2 separate regions of the Homo sapiens genome follow, and region 1 is linked to region 2. The links come from fine-mapping of genetic effects on gene expression. Tissue or cell type: whole blood. Region 2 holds a variant in brackets; the other region holds the start of a gene. Each region is shown on its reference strand, or each on the opposite one. Region 1 holds the start of S100A12 (S100 calcium binding protein A12). Region 2 holds the start of KDM5C (lysine demethylase 5C).

What was found.
Region 1: it holds the start of S100A12, and the variant in region 2 is fine-mapped to the expression of S100A12 in whole blood (TOPMed, PIP 0.97).

Annotation. Positions count from the first base shown.
Region 1 is chr1:153,373,289-153,378,670 of GRCh38, reverse strand. It overlaps S100A12 (S100 calcium binding protein A12), which reads left to right and starts at 3,050. Exons shown (of 3, transcript NM_005621.2): 1 at 3,050-3,119; 2 at 4,059-4,216; 3 at 4,704-4,960. The coding sequence starts at 4,079. The coding sequence ends at 4,844.
Region 2 is chrX:53,224,731-53,230,112 of GRCh38, reverse strand. It overlaps KDM5C (lysine demethylase 5C), which reads left to right and starts at 4,906. Exons shown (of 26, transcript NM_004187.5): 1 at 4,906-5,373. The coding sequence starts at 5,224. It also overlaps a transcript of IQSEC2 not described here. RefSeq lists enhancers at 4,585-4,634, 4,512-4,806, 4,645-5,024, 5,265-5,364. The variant T/C (reference allele first, on the strand shown) is at 2,715.

The sequences.
Region 1 (5,382 bases), not on the chromosome of region 2:
TGAAGTCTTTTGCAATTAAAATGAGATTCGCCCACATCCAAGATGAAAAAAAAAATTCCCTCTTAACACTACTTTTGCTACATTCCAGATGTTTTGATATGTTGTGTTGTGTCTCTATTTTTGTATGTTTCAAAGAATTTTTTGATTTCTGCCTTAATTTTGTTGTTTAACCAAAAGTCAGGAACAAGTTGTTTAGTTTCCATTTATTTGTGTGGTTTTGAGAGTTCCTCTTGGTATTGATTTCTATTTTTATTCCACTGCGGTCCAAGATTCTTGGTATGATTTTGATTTTTTTGAATTTATTGAGATTTGCCTTATGACTGAGCATGTGGTTGATCTTAGAGTATGTTCCATGTGCAGATGAAAATAATATATATTCTGTGGTTGTTGGGTGCATTGTTCTATAGATGTCTATTAAGTCTAATTGGTCAAGTGTCAAATTTAAGTCCATAATTTCTTTGTTAGTTTTCTGCCTTGATGATTTGTCTACTGATGTCAGTGGGGTGTTGTCCCCTGCTATTATTGTGTGGCTGCCAAAATCTTTTCTTAGATGCAGAAGTACTTATTTTATAAATCTGGGTGCTCCAGTGTTGGGTGTGTATTTATTTAGGATGGTTAAATTTTCTTGTTAAATCGAACCCTTTATCACTATGTAATGCCCTTCTTTATCCTTTTTTACTGTTGTTGGCTTACAGTCTATCGGATCTGATTCAAGAATAGCAACCTCTGCTCTTTTTTGTTTTCTGTTTGCATGATAGATCTTTCTCCATCCCTTTACTTTGAATCTACAGGTGTCATTACACATGAGACAGGTGCTTGAAGACAGCAGAAGGATGGGTCTTGTTTTTAAATCGAATTTGCCAAGGTATGTGTTTTAAGTGCAGTGTTTAGGCCATTCACATTGGAGGTTAATATTTGTATGTGAGGCTGTGTTCCTGCTTTTTTGATTTCTATTTTTTTTTTTTGAGAGGGAGTCTCACTCTGTTGCCCAGGCTGGAGTGCAGTGGCGCGATCTCGGTTCACTGCAAGCTCCGCCTTGTGGGTTCACGCCATTCTCCTGCCTCAGCCTCCTGAGTATCTGGGACTACAGGTGCCTGCCACCATGCCTGGCTAATTTTTTGTATTTTTAGTAGAGATGGGGTTTCACCATCTTAGCCAGGATGGTCTCGATCTCCTGACCTCGTGATCCGCATTTAGCAACCTCTTGCCTGGATGGCTGGGATCCTGGGCTAGTCCCTTCTCCAGGCAGATGTGAAAAAAAAAAAACATCTCAGGATCCCAAACTTACTAAGCCAGAGGGAAAAGTCAAGCTGGGAAATGGGTCATGCAAGCCTGCCCCCACCCAGGTTGGTTTCTAAATAAGATAGCTACAAAGATAAAAAGCCATACACCAATCTCACAACTTGCCCACAAGGAAATTCCTTGTGAGCCTCAAGATCTTTACCCTAAAACAGTTCTATTGAATTTCACCCTGGCAGTGTAATTGACAGCTTATCTTCACAGGTGTGGGACAAAGGGCAGAACATAAAGTCATCCCTCTGCTCACCCAAGACAAATCCATATCTGATTGCTTCCTCTCCCCTATTTTTGTTATCTTATGTAAAAATGCAGATTCACTGAGCCAGATGAAGGCATAAGTGACTATTTCCTCTACTCCGCTCCCACATGAAAATTGTGTATTCAGTGAAAGATTGATCAAAGACTCAAAAGGATGCAATCACTTGTCTCTTATCTACTGACACATTTAAAAAATATTTCTTCCTCTTCCCCCAATATCCACTGTTTCTCCTTCAAATATTGAAGCCCTCAAAATCATCTTTGGAGAAAGACGTAGACCTACCTCTGGGCACGCATCCTTAACTTTGGCCAAATAAACCTCCTAAAATGATTGAGATTCACCTTGGTCATTGTCATTGATTTACACAAGCCTGATCATCCTGCTCTGGTGGTGTCCTCCTGGGCCTAGTGAAACAAATACTGTCAATGGCTTAACAATGTTGCACTGAGATTGTGTCAGTCAAGGTGACACATGGATCGGAGAGACAGACTTTTGCCTCCAGATCCAGAGAGGTCGGTGGGCACATGAAATGAACTAGCTTTGCTAAGGGGGATATCTGTGTTGTGGGGTAGATGGCAGCACAGGTTCTGGCATGGCCTTGATTGCTCAGCAATCTTATTGACCTCTAGGCATAAACCAAGGGCAGAGTGCTTTTGGATGTCCCTTAGCTTTGGTGCGACATGGGGAATGTACAGATGAGACTTAATCCATTTTGGGCAGGTTTCTGAATCTTGAAGGACCACCTCTCCATGAATCCTGGGCATCTGTTGTCCCTTGCTGCCTCTCTGTGAGTAATAAAGTTGCTTTACTAAAACTCGTGTGAATGTTCTGTCTTACTGAACTCATGAACATGGTAAAGTAACCTAGGCATGGTGAACTTTCTTCACACACAATGATTACCCTACTCCAGCTTTCTAGGTCTTTGTAACAGCCAAGTTAGAAAGTTGGGAAAGCAAAGGGGAGGCATAGTAGCATTGCTCTCTCCTTTTTTGAAAACCTTGGAATCTATTTTGAAAACTGATCCTCTGCTCCAGTGATGAACTTTGCATCCCAGAACGACTTAGGAGGAGGTCTCCCTACCTATCTCCTTAGCTGCATAAAGATCTTTAAGTTGATATTCCATTTGCCAAAACTGAAGAGCTGGTAACCTCATCTGTTAAAACAAGACACTCAGGCTGTAAAGTTTGTTCTCCTAGTCTTTTATTAGGGAGCAGTGGAGTAGAGCTAAACCTGAAACCTGGGCCCTGGCTCAGGGCTAAAAAAGGTTCAGGGCACCCCTGTGCGGGTGGGTGGAGTGGGGGTGATTTTGTTTCAGGCTGAGCAGGAGGGCAAAATTCAGTCTGGGTACAATCTGGGCTGCTCCTGTGGCAGCCTAAGCCACAGGTTTGAAGCTTCTATTGAGCAACAGAGTACTTTACATAAATTGCCTCAAGATGAATCAGAGATTTCTTCACCCAAGGGCTAAGATGAAGCCTGAACTGATTATAAAACCTTCCTTGGCTCAGTGCCCTTCACCACTGCTGGCTTTTTGCTGTAGCTCCACATTCCTGTGCATTGAGGGGTAAGTGCATTTTCCTTGGATGGGTTCTTAGGTGGTCCACAGGGTAGTGACTGCAGGTGACCACTTTGAAATCACAAGGTGTTGGAAACCACAACCCTCCACTTGCCTGAGCACCTCTGGGGTGATATTGCATTTTGGACCCAAGTAGATCAGCTCTTGTTGTGCTATGTAGACTCAGTCCCATGATTTAAGAATGGCTAAGCAGGCCGGGTACGGTGGCTCACGCCTGTAATCCCAGCACTTTGGGAGGCCGAGGCGGGCGGATCATGAGGTGAGGAGATCGAGACCATCCTGGCTAACATGGTGAAACCCCGTCTCTACTAAAAAAATACAAAAAATTAGCCGGGCGTGGTGGCGGGTGCCTGTAGTCCCAGCTACTCGGGAGGCTGGGGCAGGAGAATGGCGTGAACCCGGGAGGCAGAACTTGCAGTGAGCCGAGATCGCCCTACTGCACTCCAGCCTGGGCGGCAGAGTGAGACTCCGTCTCAAAAACAAACAAACAAACAAACAAAAAACCCAAAACAACAACAACAAAAAAAGAATGGCTAAGCAGGGGTGGGTTATGGACCATTTGTGGGGGATATGTGGCCATAGTGCCATCACCTGAGGAAAGCAAACAGCCTGGCCAATCACAGAACCCTTCCCAAGGGACCTTGAGTAAGCAATACCCTCCAAGTTATGCACCCCGGTGGATGAGGTGGTATGGAACATGGGCAACTGAGGCTGATTTTTTTAGACGTTAGACAGTATTATATGTTTTCTCCTCCCCATCCTATCCACACATGAGAAGTTCACCATGGATCAAACAGAGCAGAGACCACAAAATAGATATGGAGGATGTTATGTTTTCTTTAGGCCCTTGATTCAGAAAGAGAGGGGAGAGTGGAGGTTGAGGGGTGGGGGAGAAACTGCCTCTAGACTTCCCTTGTTTCCTTGAAGGTTAACATTAGGCTGGGAAGATGACAAAACTTGAAGAGCATCTGGAGGGAATTGTCAATATCTTCCACCAATACTCAGTTCGGAAGGGGCATTTTGACACCCTCTCTAAGGGTGAGCTGAAGCAGCTGCTTACAAAGGAGCTTGCAAACACCATCAAGGTAGGTGATGCCCCTCTCACTGCAAACTTGCCCATGACCCTGCACTGAGGGGAGTGGCAAGGCCTGGCAGAGGATGGTGGGACAAGGACTGGGGTGGGGTTGGCCCCAGTTTGAGCTCCCAAAGGATGCTCTCCCCGCTGCTGTGGGAGAGGTCCTTTGCTTCCCTCTCTCAATAACTCACTTAAGGCTCTACTCAGTTCCTCTCTCTGAGTCTGTTTCCTCATATGTAAAATGGAGAGAGGCAGGGCACGGGAGGGGTTGAATGAGTGAGCAGAAGAGTACCTTCCAGGTCAAGCCTTGTTAATTCCAGGGTGGTTCATGACCATTGTGTTCTCTGTTTTGTTACACTGGATTCTCCAACACAGTGTTGGCTAATGAGTTAATGTGCCTGGGCCTTCACAACCCGAGCTCTGAGGGATAAGAGGCCTAAGAAAGGGTCTTGTGTGGAGGTTCTGAACTCAAGGTCTCTGTTGTCCTTTTTTCCTAGAATATCAAAGATAAAGCTGTCATTGATGAAATATTCCAAGGCCTGGATGCTAATCAAGATGAACAGGTCGACTTTCAAGAATTCATATCCCTGGTAGCCATTGCGCTGAAGGCTGCCCATTACCACACCCACAAAGAGTAGGTAGCTCTCTGAAGGCTTTTTACCCAGCAATGTCCTCAATGAGGGTCTTTTCTTTCCCTCACCAAAACCCAGCCTTGCCCGTGGGGAGTAAGAGTTAATAAACACACTCACGAAAAGTTCTGAATAGTGTCTGTGAACTTTTTTCTTTCCATGCCTGCGGTTCCCAAACTTGATCACACCTTACCCCTGCTCTTCTGGCAGTCTGATTTAGATCCCTTAGAACTCCTGCCCCATTTGTTCATTTGATCACCAATTATTTATTTATCGAATTATTTATTGAATGTCCACCATTCATTCATTCATTCACTCACTCAACAAATATTCTCTGAGCATCAGAGACCAAAGACACAAAGTCCTTGTCCTCTTAGAGCTTGCATATTATTTGGGAGAGAATAGAAAATAAATAAATAGACAAGCAAATAAAAATATATTGTATGGCTGGCCATCATGGCATGTGCCTGTAGTTCCAGTACTCAGGAGGCTGGGGCGAGAGGATTGCTTGAGTCCAAGAGTTTGAGGCCGTAGTGTGCTATGATTA
Region 2 (5,382 bases):
AGCGCATGAAAAGGCCTGGAGATGCGAGAGAATGCAATGTGTTAGTGGCACCGTAAGAAAGGAATGGGAGCTGGAGCTCCAGCGGTGGGCACAGCACATGGCACCGCGTGGAGACAGGCGGGTCTCCCCAGCCACTCCCTGTTACTCTGTTGCCAACAGATTTGTCACGCTGGCCTCAGCAGCAGCTAAAGTAAGACCAGATAACAAATTGGGCTATCTAGTACCTGCACTGTAAAGTTACCACTTTCCCCGTTGTAGTGGATGAGTATCTTGTGGAGACATGAATGGAAATGTTGTTACTCCTTAAATTTTACTCACTAGTTTTAGCGTTCGCTGGAACAATTATTATGGCTGAGGCTGTCAAATGGTGATTTTCAAATGCCGTCATTCTTTCAATATGTCTTTTTTTTTTCTTTTTTGAGACAGGGTCTCATCCATTGCCCAGTGCAGTGGTGCGATCATAGCTCACTGCAGCTTCGAACTCCTGGATTCAAGCGATCCTCCCACCTCAGCCTTCCATGTAGCTGGGACCACAGCCACACACCACCATGCCCAGCTAATTTAAAAATTTTTTGTAGAGATGGAGGTCTTGCTAGGTTACCCAGGCTGGTTTCAAACTCCTGGCCTCAAGCAGTCCTCCCACCTCAGCCTCCCAAAGTGTTGGGACTATAGGCATGAGCCACTGCCCCCAGCCTGGGCATGTCTTAGTTGGCTTTCCACTATAAGGGAGGGCTTTCCCTTCTACATTTATTTATTTATATCCTTATGGACTTAATGATTGTTTATTTTACTCAATGGGTTATATATAACCCATTAACATCATTCTTTATTTTGATGTTCACAGCCCCAGATTTGGCCAGTAGGAAGCCCTCTAAGCCCCTGTGTCCTGTGGCACATCTCCATCTTTTTCTGAGCCCTTCCAAGGAGCCCCGGTTCTTTTTAGTAGAGAATGACATTTAGAAACCAAGATTTGGGCACTAGGTGTTACAGCAATATTTTAAGAGCTTGCTCTTTTATTTTGCAAAGGTTTGAGCATCCATTGATGATTTCTAGCTCCATCATTCCTTCTATATAATTTAGAATTCTACTTTCCCTTTTCTCTCACTTTATTTACTTATATCAATGTGGAGTCATGGATTTTTATTTTAACCAGTGAGTTGTAATCCACTACTATCATAATTCATTTTGAATTAACATTACTTTGGATAAATCATTTTATTGTTATGTATATGTATAAGCACATACTATACATCTATATTTCTATACTAGACATCGATATTTCTCTGTCTCTGTCTAATAAACCATGAGTTCACACAGATACCTTGAGGAGGCTCTTTTAAGAGTCCAGGCTAGAGACAGTAAAAGGCTCACAGGAGGAGTGGAAGATGGCAAGGAGGAGGGGATGGATTCTAGAGCTATTTAGGAATCAGAACCAACAGCTTAAACCTACTTCAGAACTGGAAGAGATCATATTTTACAAACCAAAAAAAGTGAGACACAAAGTCAGTGTCAGCCCAGTTGATCCACAAAACATGAATGGGGTGCGTGTGGTTTTGAGCCCAGACGAGCCTTCCAGTCACTGCTCTGCACCAACTCCATGTCAGACCCTGTCTCCCGGGTGGATGGGTGAGGCCAAGCCAGCCCCCAGCCTGGAGTGAGTTTCCTGATGCATCCCAATTCTTAAGTCCCCAGCGTCTAGACTCCGGTTGTCCCCCAGCAAGACCCATGGCTTGGGGAACAAACCCATTTCCTGAATGCCTTACTACATGGGGAGCACCATCTGAGACTCTTACAGGCAGAATTGTACGGCAGTCAGACAGACCTGGGTTTGAGTTCTGGTCCTGCCACTTACTAGCCATGTGACTTGAGTAAGTTTACACTTCCCTGAGCTTCAGTTTCCTCATCTGTAGGATGGGGATAACAATACCTACTTCATAGCACCTGGCCCTTGATGAATGGCAGTCATCATTATCTCTAATCCTCCTAACAACACTGTGAGGAAGGGATTATTTAGCTTCATTATACAAAGGAGAAAATCAAGGCTCAGGAAGATGAGGTACTTGGCAGATCTCAGTGGGTGCATGTCAGCTCCAGGAAAGTAGAGACTACATCTGTCTTGGTCACCATTATATTCCCAGTGCCCAGAAAATTTGCTGGTGCATAGTAGAAATTTAATAAATATTTGTAAACGAATAAATTCTATCTCATTGGCTTCAAAGACTACATAATTTCTATTTAATCTTCTAGGACGGGTGTGTCTGGGCTAAAGGACCTCAAAGAAGGCTGTAGGAAGACTGTGCAGAGCTGAGACCCAAAATCTGGCCTCCTGATTCCTGATTCATGCTCTTTGTACTTCCTTGAGCCTCTAGATGGAAAGGCTGAACTTCCTTCGGCCTAAGATCTACCGTATTCTCCCACCTTCTAGATTCTCCTCACCCTTCTCTGGCCAGGCCTCTGCCTCCTTTTCATCTGTTTCTTCCACGCACCACCACCACTACCACCATCACGGTCACAGCCACGGTGGCCTGGGGGTGCTGCCCGATGGGCAGTCCAAGCTCCAGGCCCTGCATGCCCCATATTGCCAAGGACTGGGCCCTGCCCCACCACTCTACCTCCCACCCCAGCAGCTCCCTTTTCCCTCACCTCCTCCACTCCTGGTGAGGGCAAACGACAGGAAGAGCATTTGACCAGAGTCAGCAACTTCCTGTGTATCA[T/C]TGGGCAAGTTGTTTAATCTTTCTGGAACTTGGTTCCTCATCTACAGACTGGGTAAATTCACCTACATCTTTCTGAAGACTGTTGCAAAGATTAAGGGAAATAATTGGTATGAACTAGCCATGTAGGCAATTAGATGCTTATCCATGTGAGAGGCTAGTGATATTACTGTGATTAGCATCACTTTGCCTAGTTTTCCTGCTTCCTGTCCAGACAGCTGTTCAGTTGGATCATCCACCTGTGTTTCTGGTGGAGAGGGGCTGAGGTTTCCCCTGACACCTAGAAAACTAGAAAGATGTCACTTAATATCTGTGTCACTTGGGACAAGTCTCCACACGAGCCAAGTGGGGATAAAGATCTTGAACATTCAAGGTAATATAAGGATTCAGGTGATAAAAAAAAAAATACAAAAGCACTAGCACAGTGTCTGACACAAAGGAGATTCTTAATGAGTTTTGGCATATTGGTTGTTGACTCTCAGAAATAAAAATAACAGCTACCAGATACTGAGGGCCTGCTATGTGCCAAGTACACAACAATTCTGCAAGGTATGTATTATCCCCATTTCAGTTACAGAAGTTGGGACTTGTTCAAGGTTACAAACTAGAAAATGGCAGAGCTGGTGGGACTGCAAGGCATGACTCTTTTGAGCCCAGGGCATGAGCTCCTTCCTACCTGTGTGCCCTGTTCCCTCAGCCAGGATGTCCTTAGCTCAGTCCTGAAGTAGGCAGGATGGACCTAATTGGCACAGTATCTGATTAGGAACAGTTAACTGCACGAAGGTATGACACTCCCTATCTGCCTCGAGCTTACAGTGGATGTTTAATATGTTAAACAGGAAATGTTTGCAAAAAGTATTCATATTTTTCAGTCAATATATACTAAGGACATTTATTCATTTTTCTTTTGTTTACTCAACATTCATTTACTGCTTAACATGCCAAGTGCTAAGGATGTATAAGGCCACATGGTCCCTGCCCTTAAGGAATTCATAGTCTGATGGGGGAAAACAAAATTACTTAATCAGCATGTACGCAAGTACTCAAATATTTGCACAGTAGGTGTTCAAACTATATGCAGTAGGTCCACAGCTGATGAATGACACAGATGATCCTCCAATCAGTAGATGCCTGATGTATATGTACAAAGTACTGGTTTGATGATACTCATTCAAAGTACTGTAGTTGCAATGAACCTATTCAGAAACTGCTCAAGGAACATGCACACGATAGGACTAAATGTACATACAGTTGGTACCAAATGCACAGGGGCTATACACAATAAATACAATAAAAGTACACGGATGTTTGGTAAGTGCACTGTAGGCTCACAAATGGGCAAACAGGTGTTTTACACAGTTGACACTGGATAAATACGCCGTTGCTAAACATCCAATAGTTAAAGTATACATACACACAGGCTTATTTTGTAGGAGTATATGCCACAAATGTGTACATGGTAAAAGTGAATACAGAACAGTTGAAAGCGTTCATTAAAATGCTGACTCCCAGTGACTTTTGGGGGGTAAGAATCGAAACCCCATCTCTCTACCTGTAACCTTGGATGAAATAAAGATTTCCTTCCTTTACTTGGGACTCAGAATCCTAAAAATCCATAATCCCCGGGGAGTGAGCAGCTTCCTGCCTTCCTTATTTCAAAGCCCCAGAGGTGTCAGTGTCTAGAGCTGGAGCCTAGTACATCTCCCCCCATCCCGCGGGCCAGCATAAGGGGTCCTTTGCAATCAGGCTCCCAGAGCCGCCTTCCGCGGCCCATACCGTTAAGACCAGGGAGAAGGGACAGAGAACACTGGTGCGGGGCTAGCGACCTGGTTGAGGTCTGCGGGGGAGTGCCGGTTTGACTCCACCACCCACGGACACCAGCTCCTCTTCCGGTCTCCATAACGCGCATGCGCATCACTGGCCTTTAAACGTGCACCGCCGGTCCATCCGGAAAGACGATCCGGCAAACTAATTACAATCTTGTTCCTCCGCCGTTGCAATGAACTATTTTCTCTCAGTCCGGGGTGGTACTTTTGAGTAACCCCTTCCAAATAGAAACCCATACCAGCCTATTTAGCTCGGTCTCCACTATATGAAGGTTTCCTAGGGCTTGGTGTGACGCAACGTATACGAGGCTCGGAAGGACACCCCGCGGAAGGATCCGGTTTGTTGTGGTGTGGGGAGGGGAGACGCTGACAAACCAAGATGGCGGCGGCGGCGCTGAAGGCCGCGGCGTTTGGGAGGTAACTGTGGTGGCGAAGGCTGCGGTAGTGGGGAGGCAACCACACAGTTTGGAAGAAACGGAGCGGGACGAAGAGGCGGTAGCAGTAGAGTCAGCCTGAGACTCTCAGAGCACGACGGCCACACGCCCCCTTAGGCCCTCGGCGGGCGGCGGCTGCCCCGCTTAGGGCCTAGCCTCCGAGCATTGCCTCGGCTTCAAACAGCGGCGGCGCCATGAGTCCTTAAGGGCGGTCCAAGCCTCCCGATCCCTGGCCCAGACCTCGGGCCCACCATGGAGCCGGGGTCCGACGATTTCCTACCGCCACCGGAGTGCCCGGTGTTCGAGCCTAGCTGGGCCGAGTTCCGAGACCCTCTTGGCTACATCGCGAAAATCAGGCCCATCGCAGAGAAATCGGGCATTTGCAAGATCCGCCCACCCGCGGTAAGCCCC